Linked DNA regions of Homo sapiens. The protein of the gene in region 1 purifies or fractionates together with the protein of each later gene. This does not show direct contact. Each region holds a gene or a part of one and is shown on either strand. Other genes may lie near its edges.

The links. The genes of interacting proteins can lie anywhere in the genome.
Region 2: the proteins of FCRL4 (region 1) and MOCS1 purify together in Homo sapiens (affinity purification with mass spectrometry; 2 studies listed by BioGRID and IntAct, with this or other methods). This does not show direct contact.

The regions. Positions count from the first base shown.
Region 1 is NC_000001.11:157,579,716-157,588,811, reverse strand, and holds part of FCRL4 (Fc receptor-like protein 4 precursor), read left to right. Parts: intron 1-692; coding exon 693-947; intron 948-1,251; coding exon 1,252-1,536; intron 1,537-2,356; coding exon 2,357-2,644; intron 2,645-7,167; coding exon 7,168-7,281; intron 7,282-8,463; coding exon 8,464-8,491; intron 8,492-9,096. UniProt on the Homo sapiens protein: May function as an inhibitor of the B-cell receptor signaling. May function in the B-cell-mediated immune response.
Region 2 is NC_000006.12:39,923,419-39,931,495, forward strand, and holds part of MOCS1 (molybdenum cofactor biosynthesis protein 1), read right to left. Parts: intron 4,299-8,077; exon of another isoform or gene 4,161-4,298; coding exon of another isoform or gene 4,038-4,160; coding exon 3,911-4,037; intron 2,428-3,910; coding exon 2,260-2,427; intron 1-2,259. UniProt on the Homo sapiens protein: Isoform MOCS1A and isoform MOCS1B probably form a complex that catalyzes the conversion of 5'-GTP to cyclic pyranopterin monophosphate (cPMP).

The DNA.
Region 1 (9,096 bases):
TATCCCCACCCGTTGTTATGCGTCCCTTCCTCATTCCTAGTTTTCCCTCTGATTGGCATCAAGCTCCCACAGCTCCTCCTGTCCAGTTTTACCTGATGGATAATGATTTTGGTCACTTCCAAGGGCACGGACTACAGGAGTAGGCATTCAACACAGTCATCTAAGAAAGAAGAGATATAGCTAACCTCAAATTAGAATTATTAGAATATGAACAGCATGGAATTCCCATAAAGGACCACATCCACTGTCCCTTCAACCTAGACTGTGTCTCTGACAAGAATCCTGCTACAAATCACACTCCAATGTCCAGGAAGAGATCCTCATGTAGTTCTCTAAGTGCCACTTCTTTCATAGCTCCTGCTCTGAGACTCGGTGAGCAGGTTGGTGTTAAGTTCTGCTGTACTCTATCATGTCAGAGATTTTGATCACACCTTCTCTCAGCTTTTATTCTCCGTATTAGACTCCTTATCTTTGGAATCTGACTTTGAATGATAAAATAGTTGAGTCTGGGATTTATTTAGGAATTGTACCTGAAGCATGTTACACTGATTTAGGAGGAGTTTCGTGAGCTTGGATCAGGAAACTACATCCTGTGGAAGAAAGAAGAAAACAATAAAGCCTTTGTAATTCAAGAGAAGAAGGAGATAGCAGGAATGCTTTGAATGACGATCTCCTCTCTGTGTCTTTTCCAGACTCCTTAATCCTGCAGGCACCATATTCTGTGTTTGAAGGTGACACATTGGTTCTGAGATGCCACAGAAGAAGGAAAGAGAAATTGACTGCTGTGAAATATACTTGGAATGGAAACATTCTTTCCATTTCTAATAAAAGCTGGGATCTTCTTATCCCACAAGCAAGTTCAAATAACAATGGCAATTATCGATGCATTGGATATGGAGACGAGAATGATGTATTTAGATCAAATTTCAAAATAATTAAAATTCAAGGTGAATCTTTCAGTTCATATAGATTTGCTTAGTAATGACAGGGATAGGAAACTGAGCATGTAAGGAAAGAATTTACGGGTTACTATTGAAACTCTGGATAGATGAGAGGCACAAATCCTCTAAGAGGCAGAGAAAGTGGGGTGATTGGACCTGAATAATCCTGTAGAAGAAAACTGTGATAGAGGGCTTGATAAGTTTGTCTTGCTGTGTGTCTGAAGTTTCCTGGGACTGAGCATCCAAACCTGTCTCTCACAGAGTCCTAAATACTCTCGTGCTCAGAACTTGACTTACCTCTTCTCTCTAGAACTATTTCCACATCCAGAGCTGAAAGCTACAGACTCTCAGCCTACAGAGGGGAATTCTGTAAACCTGAGCTGTGAAACACAGCTTCCTCCAGAGCGGTCAGACACCCCACTTCACTTCAACTTCTTCAGAGATGGCGAGGTCATCCTGTCAGACTGGAGCACGTACCCGGAACTCCAGCTCCCAACCGTCTGGAGAGAAAACTCAGGATCCTATTGGTGTGGTGCTGAAACAGTGAGGGGTAACATCCACAAGCACAGTCCCTCGCTACAGATCCATGTGCAGCGTGAGTGTTGGAGAGCCAGGCATCTTCCCTGCCTCTCTCTGCCCCTTGGGCTCTGTAGGCATGGGGACTATGTAGCAGAGATGGGTTTTATCATCCTGACAGAGGCACCAGGCTTAGGCCAAGAAGTGCAGTACTATAATAAAAGAAATACATGACTTCTTTTCTACCTCCATTTTCCTAAAAACTCAGTCTTCCTTTGAAATTCTATCACTTCAGAATCACAGCTGACTCATGGAGTTAGGTTTGAGAGCTATGGAAAACAAAACAAAACAAGAAAATGAGGTGCCCTGCTAGGGATTTGGCAGATTCTAGAATGGCTAGATCTTAAGGATAACTATTTAGAAGACAAGCATCCACCTTTTCCTGGTCAGTAGCAATGAACAGTGTGAGTGCCTATGATGTGTACAGCAGAAAAGAAGGAGAGATAGATAGATAGATAGGCCCAATAAATATCACTTAGGTACAAAATTATGACTTTTGAAAACAGATGTGGTCCAGCCTAGTGCCATGATGGCTGCTATTGCTATTACCTGCCCCTCAAAACAACTCAGACCTCCAGCCAGGATGTCAGACAAAACCCAAATGCTTCTTCAGGGTTAGTCCTTTTTTCTTTCCTGGGGCCTCGTATATCAGGATGGAAAGCTTATCACATTTAGTGATATTCTCAGCGCTAAATCTGTGGTCTATTGGCCACAATGCTAGTGCCTGCTGAAGAGTATATCTTGAAGTCACATAAAAAGTAACCCTGCCCAACACCCCAGCTACCTAGCCCTGCCCTCCTTCACACCCGACCCCCACCTGTGGTCTCATTTTCACATAGGGATCCCTGTGTCTGGGGTGCTCCTGGAGACCCAGCCCTCAGGGGGCCAGGCTGTTGAAGGGGAGATGCTGGTCCTTGTCTGCTCCGTGGCTGAAGGCACAGGGGATACCACATTCTCCTGGCACCGAGAGGACATGCAGGAGAGTCTGGGGAGGAAAACTCAGCGTTCCCTGAGAGCAGAGCTGGAGCTCCCTGCCATCAGACAGAGCCATGCAGGGGGATACTACTGTACAGCAGACAACAGCTACGGCCCTGTCCAGAGCATGGTGCTGAATGTCACTGTGAGAGGTGAGTTTTAATCTCTATTGACCTTATTTATTCTCAGCAAACTTCCTCAAATTAAGGGTGGGGATAGCTAACATTACCCTGTGACTCTGCTGTTTCTGTTTCCATTTTGCCATGCTCCACTGTGATAAACAATTTCTTCCATTAGAATAGTAATAACTCACTCAGGTCAGAGTAAGGTCCTGTAGTGAGGTAATGGTGGCTGGGAGCCATTTTGCTTTTTGGAGGTGATTTTGTTTGTCTGTGTTTGGGTCCATTGTGTGTTTATCTCCAAGAGGAGCCTTACTTCATTAGCAGTGTTTCTGGGTGGGGCACAGCTCTGTCACCCTACCGTGTCATCCTACAGTATCAACTACACCTCTCCTTTCAGTAAATCATTCACACACACCACACACATCAGACCTGCAGCCTCAAGTCCACAGAACCAAAAGCACAAGGCATTCCTTTACTTCATTACTATAATAGAATCCTGAGGGATTCTCAGCAGCCAAATTGTATGTGGGTCAGGAAACTCACAAGAAGCAGGGAGAGCAGATACAGAGCCCACTTTTGTCCATTGAGGAGAGAAGCCTTACTTTGGGATATCACAGGTTTAGCTCATATACATCTCTTCCTCCATCGCTGAGAAGCCACACTGGGCCAAGCTATGTTCTCACTCAGCTACCTTGGCACTAAGGAAGTGGTCTTTACTGGGCTTCAATTCCTCCTCAATCTCAGGTTTAGTTGTATTCCTGTCTCTCTGAAAAAGGAAAGAAAGAAAGAAAGAAAGAAAGAAGGAAAGAAAGAAAGAAAGAAAGAAAGAAAGAAAGAAAGAAAGAAAGAAAGAGAGAGAGAAAGAAAGAGAGAAGGAAGGAAGGAAAGGAGGAAAGAGAAAGAAAGAAAGAGGGAAAGGAAGGAAAGGAAGGAAAGAAAGGAAAGAAAGGAAAGGAAAGAAAGGAAAGAGGAAAGAAAGGAAGAATCTAGCTTTTATTAAGTTACTGGAAAGCTAGATTTCCCTGCTTTTCTATACAATAAAACTCCTCAATTCACTCTCCTTACCTCCCTGATTTTTTCTTAAACCCATCACCACCAGGCTTGCCTCACTCCACCAAAATTACTAATGATCTCCATATTTCTAAGGCCAGTGGAAAACTGTTCCCATTTGATTTGACCTACCTCCAGCTTTTGATACAATTGATCCCTCCCTCCTTCTTGAAACATTTTCCTGCTCAATTTCTGGGACATAACCTGTTAGTATTCTATCTATTCAGCAGATACTTTTTTAAAGTTTTCTTTCCAGATCCTTATAATATTTCCAACTTCTAAATTTTGGGGACTGCTCCCCAAAAACAGCTGCACTGTTTATACAAAGTCAGCTCTGACGGTCAAAGCCATAAACCTGAACAGTTTAGTCAGAGGCTCCAGCAAGGGGTTGCTATGCGAATGGCCCAGATGCGGCTCAACTTTCCCTTCAACTCCCTTGAGGCAAGTCTTATGATCAAGCAGGGCCCACCAGGTTAAGAGACTGAGGTGTTTCCCCAGAACTAAGTACCACAGCAATCTGCATCTCAGTCTGGGAACATCACTGGGTGTAATTCCCAGCAGAGAAGGACTGAGACTGAGCTAATGTCATTTCAATGACTTTTTTTTTTTTTTAAGATGGGGTCTCTCTCTGTTGTCCAGAGTGGAGTTCAGTGGCGTGATCTTGGCTCACTGCAGCCTTGACCTTCTGGGTTCAAGCGATCCTCCCACCTCAGCCTCTCAAATAGCTGGGACTACAGGCATGTGCCACCATGGCCAGCTATTTTTTTTTTAATTTATTTTTCATAGAGAAAGGTTCTCACTACGTTGCCCAGTCTGGTCTTGAATTCCAGGGCTCAATGGCATTTCAAGAATCAGATTAGGGGAGAGGAAGAAGGGATTAGCAAAACTGCAAGCTGCCAAGGGCTCCCTCGAAAGACTCCTGAATGCCCTGAAATCCAGAGTAACACTGATGGTAGAGGGTGTTTCTTCTGCAGGAAGGCTCTTATTCTGAAAAGTTTACCTCAGGAAGTTCAAAGATTATAATCTCTGAGGAGATAACAGTGAATCTGTTGGTAAGTATAAATTATTCCTCTTCCTTTTGGGGGTTAAGATCATCAGAATGGATCAGCTTCTCCTGATCCAGGCAGTGAACTGGCCACTTCACATGTATCATTTCATTTTATTCTCATGACAGCCCTGGAAAGCAGGTGTCAACATCTGTTAAGGAAACAGATGATCTCAAAGATTAAACAAACGTCAAGGATCCAGTGATGTTTGCTGGAATAGGGATTCCCTCCTAAATATTTTTTAATCATGGACTTTATGCAAAATCCCCGTGCTTAGAAATAGGAGAATATATAGCAAAGAGAGAAACTCTGCAGTAGCCTCATGCACTGGGCTAAGGTGGGCTGTCTCAGGCAGCTTGAACTGCCATAACCAAACACCAGGGACTGGGGAGCTTAAAAAACAGAAATCTATTTCCTCATAGTTCTGGAGGCTGGAAGTCTGGGATTAGTGCACTAATATAATTTGGATTCTTGTGAGGGCTCTCTTTCTGGCTTACAGAAGGCTACCTGCTTGCTGTGTCCTTACATGGCAGAGAGAGAGAGCAGCACAACCTTTCTGGTGTTTCTTCTTAGAAGGGCACTAATCCTATCTTTGGGGCCCCACCCTCATGATTTCATCTAAATCTGATTACCTCTCAAAGGCCCTGTCTCCAAATACCATCACATTGGGGTTAGAGCTTCAGCGTATGAATCTGGGGGAGAAGGGCACAAATCAATCCATAGCATGGACTGAGGATGTCTGGGGTAGGGCTGTGTGGGAGCAGGCTTAACCTATGGAGGTGTCCTCTAAGCTAATCAGAGAGCAGCCTGAATTTCCTGAGAGTCTAGGGCATGGTGTCAGGACCACAAAATATGAACTAGTATTTCCCTAGACGTAACACTTAAGTGGCAGGCACTGTTCAAAGCACTTTACATGTATTAACTCATTTACAACAGTAAATAGGAAACTGAGGCAAAGGGAGATTAAATAATTTTCCCTGCCCACACAGTGAGTAAGTTGAGGAGCTGGGATTCTAATCCAACAACCTGGATTTAGAATCTGTGCCTTTCTAACTGAGACAAAATTTCAATTACTTTCCCCAAAGTAGCCATTTCTTTTAGGAAATAGGGTTACCAGGAAGGTAGAGTAACTTGCTTTCTGCCCTTTGAGTCTAGAATCCTAGGCCTGGGTGTGGCTGATTCTGATTTTGCACCGGCGGATGCCCCAGCAGGCAATGGGGAAAGATTCAATACAGGATGTAGTGGCCAAGCCTCTCTGTCCTTAGATTTCTGTCCTGCTCTCCACCGTACTCTTTCAGCTGTTGTGGCTGGGAAGCTGGGCTGGCTGTCCACTGAATACTGTTTATTAGTGGAACCACTCATAGGTCAAAGGGCAGGTTTGTTGATATTGTTGAGGAGGGAAGGATAATATCAGAAATGTCACCAGCCACTCCTAGCCAATGGCTCCTCTGTGCCCAAAATCATAGATGAAAATAAACGGAAATCATGATCAGTGTTGCTGTTGTTCTACTACCTGCATGTTCTCTGTCAATTCTGTGGTACCTGTGTCTGAGGTCTGAATTTGGTTTACCTGGGGACCAAGAATACATATGGGAAAGTACCACGCCCCACTCTCCACTCTCTGTCCCTCTGTCATGCTTTTTGCTCTTTAGCGCATCACTACAGGGCACGGTATAAATTTATTTATTTGTTTATGGCTTGTCTCCCCTCCCTGGGTTATAAACTCAAGAGCCGGGACTTTAACGTCTTGTTCACTCTTGGGTCTTCAAGGGTTAGGTCAATGCCCAGCACAGGGCAGCCTCAGTAAATATTTGTTGTATAAATAAGTAAATTGAATGAAACCTCCTTTTCCGTGGATGAAAGGATAGGAGAACGGACCCCATGGAAATATCAAAAGCCCCTAACAATTTATTGATTATGTGTACTTTTCCATCCGTTTTTTTCTCTCCTGCCCTTCAGAGCACACAGGCACAGGCTTCTATGAGGAAGGAGGCTGATGCCATTTCATCGTGGTGTCCCAATGCGGAGCAATCTCAGAGTTACTGTTGGTTCAACTGGTGCCATAATCAGTGGTGCAATTTTCATTCTCTCTCAGGCAGTTTGCTGTTCCTAAGTTAGGTGCTGCCAAGCCATGATCCCACAGTATCTCTCCAGGTGTCTGGGGGCAATTTGCAGGAAGCCAGCTTACCAGAATACAACATTAGGATTTCCCCTAAATTGTTAGTTTCTAAAATGATTCACTGAAGGTAGAGGGAGCTGCTGTTTCCTCTTGCACTCAGGCCCTGGCCCACCCAATGTGAGCTTTTCTGGCCAAAACCTGGCCCAAGATGTCTTTATGAGACCTAGTCCTTTAGATTTTTCTCTCTTCCAGGGCTCGTTACCCAACCAAGCTGAGGAAAAGGCAATCCCAAACCCTGAACCTCTCCACTGAGATTCACACAGGTCCTTTCCCCTTAGAGACCCCAGGCAACAGAGATGGCCTTGTCGCCGCGGGAGCCACTGGAGGGCTGCTCAGTGCTCTTCTCCTGGCTGTGGCCCTGCTGTTTCACTGCTGGCGTCGGAGGAAGTCAGGTTTGTGCTCTTTTCTTTGCCACAGTTCCTGCCCTGTTCCTTCCCCTGAACTCAGCATGCAGACAGCCTTAGTGGCCACCAGGCCACCACTCCCAAGTCTCCACTCCCAAGTCTCCACTCCCAGCGTTCACACACACTCACGTCCGTCCCTTCCTTAAGGGGCAGTTTTGCAAACAGAAGCCATGAATGAGAGCTGCTCATATCTAGTCTGATTGGCTAAGTCTCAGTGAAGGGGAGGAAGAGTGAAATTTTTAATGTAAAGTTCCAAAAACTTTATCTGAACAGTTTACTTAGGCAGTTTCTTTGGTTCATATAGACTGGCCAGTTAGATACTTCAGCCTATCCTAAATCCACCATAAATGGAGATTCAGAATGAACTAAAGGCTCTGCAGAAATGATTGAGAATAAGAGCTGGCTAATTTTATCCTTCTGTCCCCTCAGGGGCTTTTCTGGGTCTGGCTTTTCAGGGGCTTTTCTGAGCAGGCTTGAGCCTGCCATCTGGTGCTCCAGTGGCCCCTCTCTCCTCAGGTCAGCCTCCCCTGCCTCTTGGAGATGGTCTGTCCCAGGCACTGTTTGCTGCGTGCTTCCAAAGACTTCTTGCCTCAGCCCACCTCAGGCTGGCTTTAGATGCCAAGAAACCTGGTGTAGAAGACAGGAGCAGAACCTTTTTCAGCTCTAGAATAATTACCCACATCCTTCAACTCTGTCTCTTAATTCAATTCAACTTTCCAGATTCCTGACAGCACCTTCTGTGTGTCCTGCATTGAACTGGAGGTAGGGAGCTTTGGACCTCTGACCAATTCTCCTTAGTGGGGCTGAGTCAGAGCCCAGTGCTCCTCTGGGCATGGCCACAGATGTTCCTCGAAGTTCACCCACAGCTCACTACTCTCCAAGTGACACTTTTGTTATATGTAATGTTTCCTGAGGGATTTCAACACAGACTTGAGTCTTAATAAATTCTCAGACAATTACATACTTAACTCAGGAGTGTGCAGTCCTGGCCTCAAAAAGTTATATGCTTTGTACAATCTTTTTTTCACCTCATTTTCATGAAAACCCAGGACTGGGCAGGTGTTTGAATTGACTGTCTTGATTACCTCTCTTAGATAGCTCCTGTTACATGAAGTCATTGAGAAAGAGCTCCCTCTGCTGACAAAAATGCGTCTTTGCTTTATTTTGCAGGAGTTGGTTTCTTGGGAGACGAAACCAGGTGAGACCTCAGTTTCTGCCATTCCTTTTTAGTTTCCCGAGTACACAATATGCAAAACTGTGGGGTTATGAAATTAGGTCAAGTTATACCTCTTTGGCCCTGTGGCTAGATACTTCCATTTTCACACTCCATGAATTTGTCAAAAATGAAGCTTCCTAGAACTTTGCTTGTCAGCTAATAGTTTGCAATACATGCAAAATAATAGATTTCTTATTTGATCTTAACCTACTCATCTAAATGGATAATACCAAAGGTTATAAAGTACAGAATATTTCTTGTACTATAATTAAGTTAGACAATGTGTTACTATAATTATGCATACAATGACTAGAGTCTAGATTTTCTACAAATGTTCTAGGTTTTCCAGAGAACTCTATGTTTCTAATAATCTTCTTTTTGCACCATACACGCATATATACTCATTAAACGTTATGTGCTTAACTTCCATTTGGAAAATACTGTCATCTTCCTCCTTCTATGTCAGTGTCTCAGTCTTAGGTAAGGAATAAGAGTGTGGATTATGTCTAATTCCTTCTTGGATTGTACAGACATTACAATGTAAAGACATTTTATGTATGTATGTATGTATGTATGTATGTATGTAT
Region 2 (8,077 bases), on another chromosome or scaffold:
GTTTCCCGGGAGAGCCCCGAGTCCTCATACCAGTGCTCAGCCATCCTGTACCTCCCTGACCAGTGAGTGATCCTCATCCCCTCTGCTCTCTCACAGGTCCTGGCACAAGGCGGCCCATGCCCGCGGGTGCCAGGGAGAGGAAGTGGCCTGGATGAGGGGGCTGGGCCTGGCAAGCAGCTGGTTCAGCAGGTTCAGCCCTTTCCTGGCAGCCAGCCTGCCTTTTAGCCCTGAGGAGCTGCCTGGAACATGGGGTCAGCTTGCCTGGGCCAGCTCAGCCAGCACAGGATGACAGAGGTTCCCAGGCCAAGTGACCAGTAGGAGCTGAAGGGAGCTGGCCATGGGGCAGGAGGGAGAAGAGGGCTGTCAGGGGGACCTGGGCCCCTCCTTGGGACTCTCACAGCACCTAGGCTCCCCTTATACAGCAGCTGCTTCCTCCAGTGGGCCACAGGTCCTCAACAGCAGGGCTGGTGCTCATTCATCTTCGTGTGCTCAGCACAGTAGGAGGCATGCAAGAGGGCACTCCAGCGAACAATTACTGAGCTAGAGAGCTGAGGGGCGGGGGGTCCTGTCCAAAGCAGCTGGACGGGGCAGCAATCAAGAACATGGAACCTCATAGCCCCGATTTCATCACCTATAATTACATGAGCAAAGGTCTCTTTCCTGATCTTGGGGTTTAGAAGCTCATGGCAAGAGGCCCTTTAGAGCTACCTTTACAGAGCACTTGCCATAGGCTGGGCATTTCATTCTCATTCCCTCCTCAGGTCAACCTTATAAGGTAGGTACTATCACTGCCTCAAGGCTTAGAACAGATTTTAAAAGTTGCCCAAGGTACGCTTCTTGTAAGAGGCACAGTGGAGACTCAGATAGGAATATGCCGTACTGCAGAGACTACTCTGACCCAGTCTCCATTCATTCAGCGAATTTCAGGGAGCATCAACCACGTGTCAGGCACGGTACTGGATGCCAAAAACAAAACCTGCTCCAGCAACCTGAGAGCTTTCACGCCAGCGAATGCAGGAGACAGACAATTAAAGAAACCAAACACACAACCCAAACACACAGTGCCAGGATGAGATAAATGCTATGAAGCAAAACAAAGTAGGGTAAGTGAGTAGGGCAGGGGTTGCCACACTTTTTCTGTGGAAGTCCAGATAGTAAATATTTTCTACTTGGCTGGCCAGCTTTGCAACACAGTCTTTGTCAACACCATGCAACTCTGCCAAAGCAGCCATGGGCAATATGTAAATGAATGGGCATGGCTATATTCCAATAAAACTCCATTAATAGACACTGAACATATAGGATTTTATAATTTTCGTGTGGTAGAAAATGTTATTATTTTATTTTTTTCCCCATTATTTAGGAGCATAAAAACCATGGCAGGATGCAGTGGCTCACGCCTGTAATCTCAGCACTTTGGGAGGCCGAGGTGTGTGGATCACTTGAGGTCAGGGTTTCGAGACCAGCTTAGCCAACATGGTGAAACCCCGTCTCTGCTAAAAACACAAAAAATTAGCCAGGCATAGCGGTGTGTGCCTGTAAGCCCAGCTACTCTGGAGGCTGAGGAAGGAGAGTCACTTGAACCTGGGAGGTGGAGGTTGCAGTGAGCCGAGATCCTGCCACTGCACTCTAGCCTAGGTGACAGAGCGAGACTCTATCTCAAAAACAAACAAACAAACAAACAACACTCAGTTTGCACGTTAGACAAAAACACATGTCGGCCCAGATTTGGCTGCTATAACTTGCCAATTTCTGGGAAAGAGTGGCTGGTGTGAGTACATGAGGACGCACTTTAGACAGGATGGTTGAGGAAGGCCTTGCTGAGAAGATGACATGTGAACAGAGACCTGAATGAGGTCGAGGAGAGTGCCCTGAGCTCCTAGCAAAGGGAACAGCACATGTCAAGGCCCGGTCATGTGAATGGGAAGGAGGGGAAAGGTGGAGAAGCCTGCAAGGGTTTTGGAGGTCAGCAAGAGCCAGGTCACGTGGGCCTCCTGGAGGACCTTGGTCTCAATGTGACAGCAAGCTACTGAGGTCTGGCATTTGCGAGCTTCCTGACCTTGGGCAAGTTATCCAACCTAAGCCTCATTTTCTCATCAAAAATGGAAATAATAATAGCACCTGTCTCAGCAGGTGTTGTAGGACCAAGAGAGTGTCATGTGCTAAATGAATGTCAGCTGCCACTGTTAACATCGGCATCAGTGTCCAGCCGGATGAGGCAGCGCTGGGAGAAGTGGCGATGACTTTCGTCCAACTCACCCACAATGTCCACCACGTCCGGCCGGATAAGCGGCTCTCCACCTGTGAGCCGGATCTTGTCGATGCCTTCCTTCACAAAGAGCCGGGCGAGGGTCAGGATCTCCTCTGTGGTCAGCAGGTTGGCTTTGGGGGTCAGCGGGACCCCCTCCTCGGGCATGCAGTACTGACCTGAGGGAAGGATGAATGGGAATGTGGAGGGAGGAAAGAGGCACGGCCACAGCCCCGTGATGCCTCCACTCCCCAACTCTCCATCAGGCCAAAGGCTTCTCAAACCCATCTGGATGTGAGCGGAGACCTCACTAAACCTGAGGTGGAAAAACCCCAGGCCAGCATCTCCCCAGGCCTCACCTTTCTCATTTCTGAAACGTTAACACCTTTCCCTATGCCCAACACACACAATCTGGCCATAACATCCCTCAGTGGGAGGCCAAGGGCATGGGTTAGAGATGAAGTAGGCTGAGGGCAGAGCCTGGCCTGACTTCCTGGGCTGAGGGCACCTGGGCAGGGGCGTTCCTCCTGGCATTGTCACCCATCCTCCTGCATTTCACTGGCTATGGCAAACAGGTAGCTTTCTCTCTGTGTGTCATGGGGTGAGAGAGAGGTACTCTCTGGCCTGGCAAAAGCTGCCGTCCTCTGTAGCTACAAGCATTCTCAAATCCACTCTATCTATTTCAGGTTATCATCAGACCCATTTTATATGTTGGAAAACTGAGATACTACTTGTTCATGGTGAGGTATCAGAATGGGGTAAATGAGGTGAGCAGCGGCAGGCTGTGGAAGGGCCACCATCCTCCACCATCACTTCCTGTGGTGCAGTTTCATTAAGGTTTGGGTCAAGATCTGTTAGAGAGTCATGAAGGCAAATTACTCAGTTGGGTCCAGAACCAGTCCTTTGAGACTGAAGAGAATAAGTAAGACTACCAGAATGTAAAGCATATAGTACATCTTGTTTGGTTAAAAAGTTACTAAACATACATGCATGCATTTATTGGGCCATGAAGTAACTTTATTTCTTATCGTGAGGTATAGTGAAAGAAAGTGGGGAGGAAAAGAAGGGGGGGAAGGGGGGAAGGGGAGGGGAAAGTGGGGAGAGGCAGAAGGAAGGAACAGAGGGGAAGGAAGATCAACTTTGGAAGTCCCTCCAGCAGTGGCTACAGATCCAGAGCACTCTTTGGGAGGATTATGAAATGAGGCCTCTTTGTTATTAGCCTAGCCCCAGCTGATTTGTCACGGGACTGGGGCACCTCCAGAGTCAGCAGTGCTGGCATGGGCATGGCTGTCTACTTCAAATGTTTATAATGTCCACCACCCCACCCCTGGCCATGTCCTGGACTTCGGGAACTACAGGGAAACAGGAGGAAGGACCCCTGAAGAATGAGAGGTCCAGGATCCAATCTTAATTCTAAATCCAACTGCATTTATGTTTTCAAATCTAATTCCAAGTAGGACACAGCTTCTATAATCATACAACTCAGCCTTGACCCCTATCTTGCCCCTGAAGCCCACCTGGCCTGGTAAGCAAGGGGTAGCAGGTGAAGAAGTTAGAAAGCAGAACTGGAGGACACAGGAGGATTTCCAGGCACAGGGAAATTTCAAGGGCTGCTTCAGCAGATGGACACCAGCCCAGAGAGGGCCCAGGAAGGTGACTCACATCTGAGGTTGCACTTCTCTGTGAGGGAGATCCGCAGGTAGCTGTGCTGCCGGCCGAAGCTGTCTGTGAGGAAGGCGGAGAAGGGGGCCGCATGCTCCCGCAGGAACTGCCTCCGCCTGGACACCTCCTGCGAGGACAGACCAGGGAGGAAGCATGGGCCCCTGCTACCGGGCTGGGAAGAGGCACAAGGAGAACCGCCTGCCCCCTCCCTTACTCTGACATCTGTGCGGAGCTTCCAACTCTTCCACATGTTTGGGCTCTGCAATGTTGGGGAAGCTGGGATTGTCCCTCTCGTTGAGAAATCAGCTTGATGGGAAGGACCCACCCCTTAAGTATTCAGCTTGGGGGTCGGGGGCGGATGGTGATCTCTACTGGGAAGATTTCTGGCTGGGCAGCAAGGTGGAGGCAAGGGTGTGGGGAAATCTATTAGCCCTTATTCTTCACTCTAGCCAGTGCCAAAAAAAGGATTGTGCACCCATGGTCTCGGGCATAAATGAGAAGAGACTGCTGAAGGCCACAAGCAAGGCCCAAACCCGTCCTGCAGAGAGAAAGGAGGGAGCCGGCTTCACTCTTTCCCATGTACAAGTCTGATCTAGTCTGATCCGTCTCCCCCTGACCTATCGGTCCTTGGAGAGTACAACCTGGGTCCCGACAGATGCTGATGAGATAATTGCTCCAAGGAAGTAGCATTTACCAAGCATCTTAAAGTTTCCAAAGAACGTTCTGTTTCATTCCCACACCCACTCCACAAGGGATTATTATAACTAAGGCTTGGATGGGGTCCAAGAACACCCTCGGCAGAAGCAGGATTCAAATCCAGGTCTTCTGATTCCAGGTTCTTTTTTTTTTTTTTTGAGATGGAGTCTCGCTCTTTTGCCCAGGCTGGAGTGCAGTAGCGCGATCTTGGCTCACTGCAAACTCCACCTCCCAGATTCATGCCATTCTCCTGCCTCAGTCTCCCAAGTAGCTGGGACTACAGGCACCCGCCACTGCACCCGGCTAATTTTTTGTATCTTTAGTAGAGACGGGGTTTCGCTGTGTTAGCCAGGATGGTCTCGATCTCCTGACCTCGTGATCCACCTGCCTTGGCCCCCCAAAGTGCTGGGATTACAGGCATGAGCCACCACACCCGACCCTGATTCCAGGTTCTAAATTACTCCCTTCTATCACAGAGAGAGTCCAAGAAGATAGGGAGGATGACAACTAGGGTGGGTAGAAGTCACTTCTCTAGAATATTTCAGACAAAAAAATCACGACCCTGGAAGTCATGCATGAGATCTACAGACAAGGTTCTGGAATGGGAATAAGAAACCCTGGTTTCTGCAGTAGGTATGACCTGGTACACTGTGAAAGTCCCTTAACTTCTCCAGGCCTGCTTTCCCAGTTGTAAAATAAGAATACAGCTACAGGCTAAGGTTGTCTTGCTAGGAGTAAAGACAGGGGTGGAGTGGTAGTGGTGGTATCAGAAGATGGTAGGTGAACACTTAAAATTATGATGAAGAACAGAAGGTCTCAGGCCCTCCAAAGGTCTAGCGCAACTATGCCTACAATTAGGAGGAAGAAGCATTTGCTTCAGTAAGTTCCTCAGCTCCAGCTGCACATTAGAACCATCTGGAGAACTTTAAAAAAACATTCCAGTGGAGACCAACTAAATCTGGATCTCTGAATCTGTTACGTTTTCAATCTCTCCAGGTAATTCTCATCGGCAGCCCTTGACTGGGTCAAGAGCCACTGAGTGGCTCAAAGATAAGAGACATGAGAGTATGTGTGAAGCTGCTCTTGATTTTCTGGGCCCATAAAACATTCCTCACTCTACCCACCGCGGGAGAATTTCCCACCTCCTCTGAGAAGCCCTGCTCACCATCCTGTGGGGAGTAAGCAGCAGTCACTTCTCTAACTGCCGTCTGCTATAATCACAACAGTCACTTCCTCCCTCCCTGCGGTATGATGGAGAAAACTCAAACTCAACCCATTGCCTTTCCACAGATAGCCTCAGGGTTGGGGCGGGGAGCACTCCATAATCAAGAATCCCATCAGCCACCGGAGTCCAGATGAGATACCTGGGAATCTGGATGTATTGCAGTGCTGTGCCCTCTTTTTCATCAACAGCTATTTGCAATTCAGTCATGTTAGTCACCCTAGATTCTGCCTCTTCACTTGCCAAGATACCCCCCCTCAACCCAGTCTTGACATGATGGGGGGATGGGGTGGCTGGATGGGGGAGGAGTCAAAATACATCAAAGAATTGGAAGTTGAGAGGACCAAGGAGCATTATTCAGCAGAAACCTGAGAGCAAGCAGTGTGATGGAGCAATCAAGAATGGAATTAGGGGCCGGGTGTGGTGGTTCACGCCTGGAATCCCAGCACTTTGGGAGGCCGAGGAGGGCAGATCATTTGAGGCCAGGAGTGTGAGACTAGCCTGGGCAACATGGCAAAACCCCGTCTCTACTAAAAAATACAAAAGTTAGCTGGCTGTGGTGGCGCGAGTCTGTAATCCCAGCTACTCGGGAGGCTGAGGCAAGAGAATCGCTTGAACCCAGAAGGCAGATGTGGCAGTCAGCCAAGATCGCACCACTGTACTCCAGCCTGGGCAACAGAGCGAGATTCTCTCAAAAAAAAAAAAAAAAAAAAAAATGGAATTTGGTGCTTTTGTTCTGGCAATGGGAGAGGCTGGTCAGATTTCACTTTTAAGAACTTCTGTGACCTTGTCTAGACTTATGCAGACTGCACCACCCGTTCTGAACCCAGCCTCCTAAACACACACACTCTCACCCTGCCAGCAATGCAAACTCATTACTCAGATATTAACGAGCCCCATTCCTGCATCTTCTCTCCTCTAACACTGCATGCCCTACTTTCATTCTTCTACTTTTTTCCCTGTCCCTTAAGTCTCCTGGAGGAAAAAAATATCAGCACCAGTCAAAGGAGCCCAAGATTCAGAGGGAATTATAGGACAGAGTAGACAGCAACCCTGCTTGCTCAGGAGGGCTGGGACATGCCAGAAGTAGTAGGAAGCACTCAACGGATCATATTCCCAGGGTCCCAGGCTGGCCTGGGCTGTTTCCTCTCCGTGAGAAGTCATTCTGCCTGATTCAGTATCCCCAGTGTCTAGCACAGGATGTTGGTACATTTTGAATCACATGAACAAATAGTCCTGTCCCTAATGTAAGCAGAAAGGTCGTATATGCAAAAGCCAGTTACATGGGGGTAATCATTTCCCGGCTGGTCTCTACTGTCAAAATGGTTTAACCTGGTATAGTGGTTTGAAACCCTGGCAGCCCATCAAAATCACTCAAGGAGCTTCAAGAAGGATTCTAGTTTCAAGAAGGAGCTAGAATCTGTCCCAAAGATTCTAGCTCAATCTAGTGCCTCAGCTGTGCAGCCAGGGCTGAGAACCATCGGCCTAGTGACACCAAGTGCCAGGTGCTATTTTAATCCAGGGCAAGTTGTTGTGGTTCTGAGCACAGGATTTGGAGTAGGTGAGCCTATATTACAAGCCTGGCTCTAGCTGTTGAGCAAGTCACCTAAATTCTCGAAACCTTAGTTTCCTCATCTATGCAGTGGAAATAATAATCCAACCTAACTCAGTTGGAGGAGTTCCTGGCACCGAGGTTTTCATTCAGTGATCCATGGAGGAACACTGTTGTGTGCTGTGATCAGTTTTTCTAGTTTGTCAGCTTCCCTTCCCTTCCAAGACCCTGGCCTTCCAACCCTACTAACAGCAGATGGCCAGAGGCAGGGTTTCAAAGCTGCTGCCACACCACCCAAGTGGGGTCTGAGCATCCCCAGGACCACCAATACTGGTGTGCATCAGCAGGCACTAAGCAGCCTGCCAGACACTACTGGTCATCTCATGTCTACCCAATGCAGATTAGGGTGAAGGGGGTGGGGAAGGGTGGGACAAAAGAGTTAAAGCGGGACCCTGCCCTCAAGGTGCCCTCCTCTACTAGTCACTCATCTTAGGCATCTGATTTGACTGCTAAAGGCTAGCCCTCAAATAGCTCCAAAGTCTAAACAGAGCAGCAGGGTTATTCGAGAGGAAAAAAAGCACATTCCAAATCTAAGTATCGTGGCCCTGATTTACCCTGCTATTGGGATGATGTATACTAAGGGTCTCTTAAAATTAATCTCTTTTAAATGAGAGGACCCAACAAAGAGCCTAGCCTA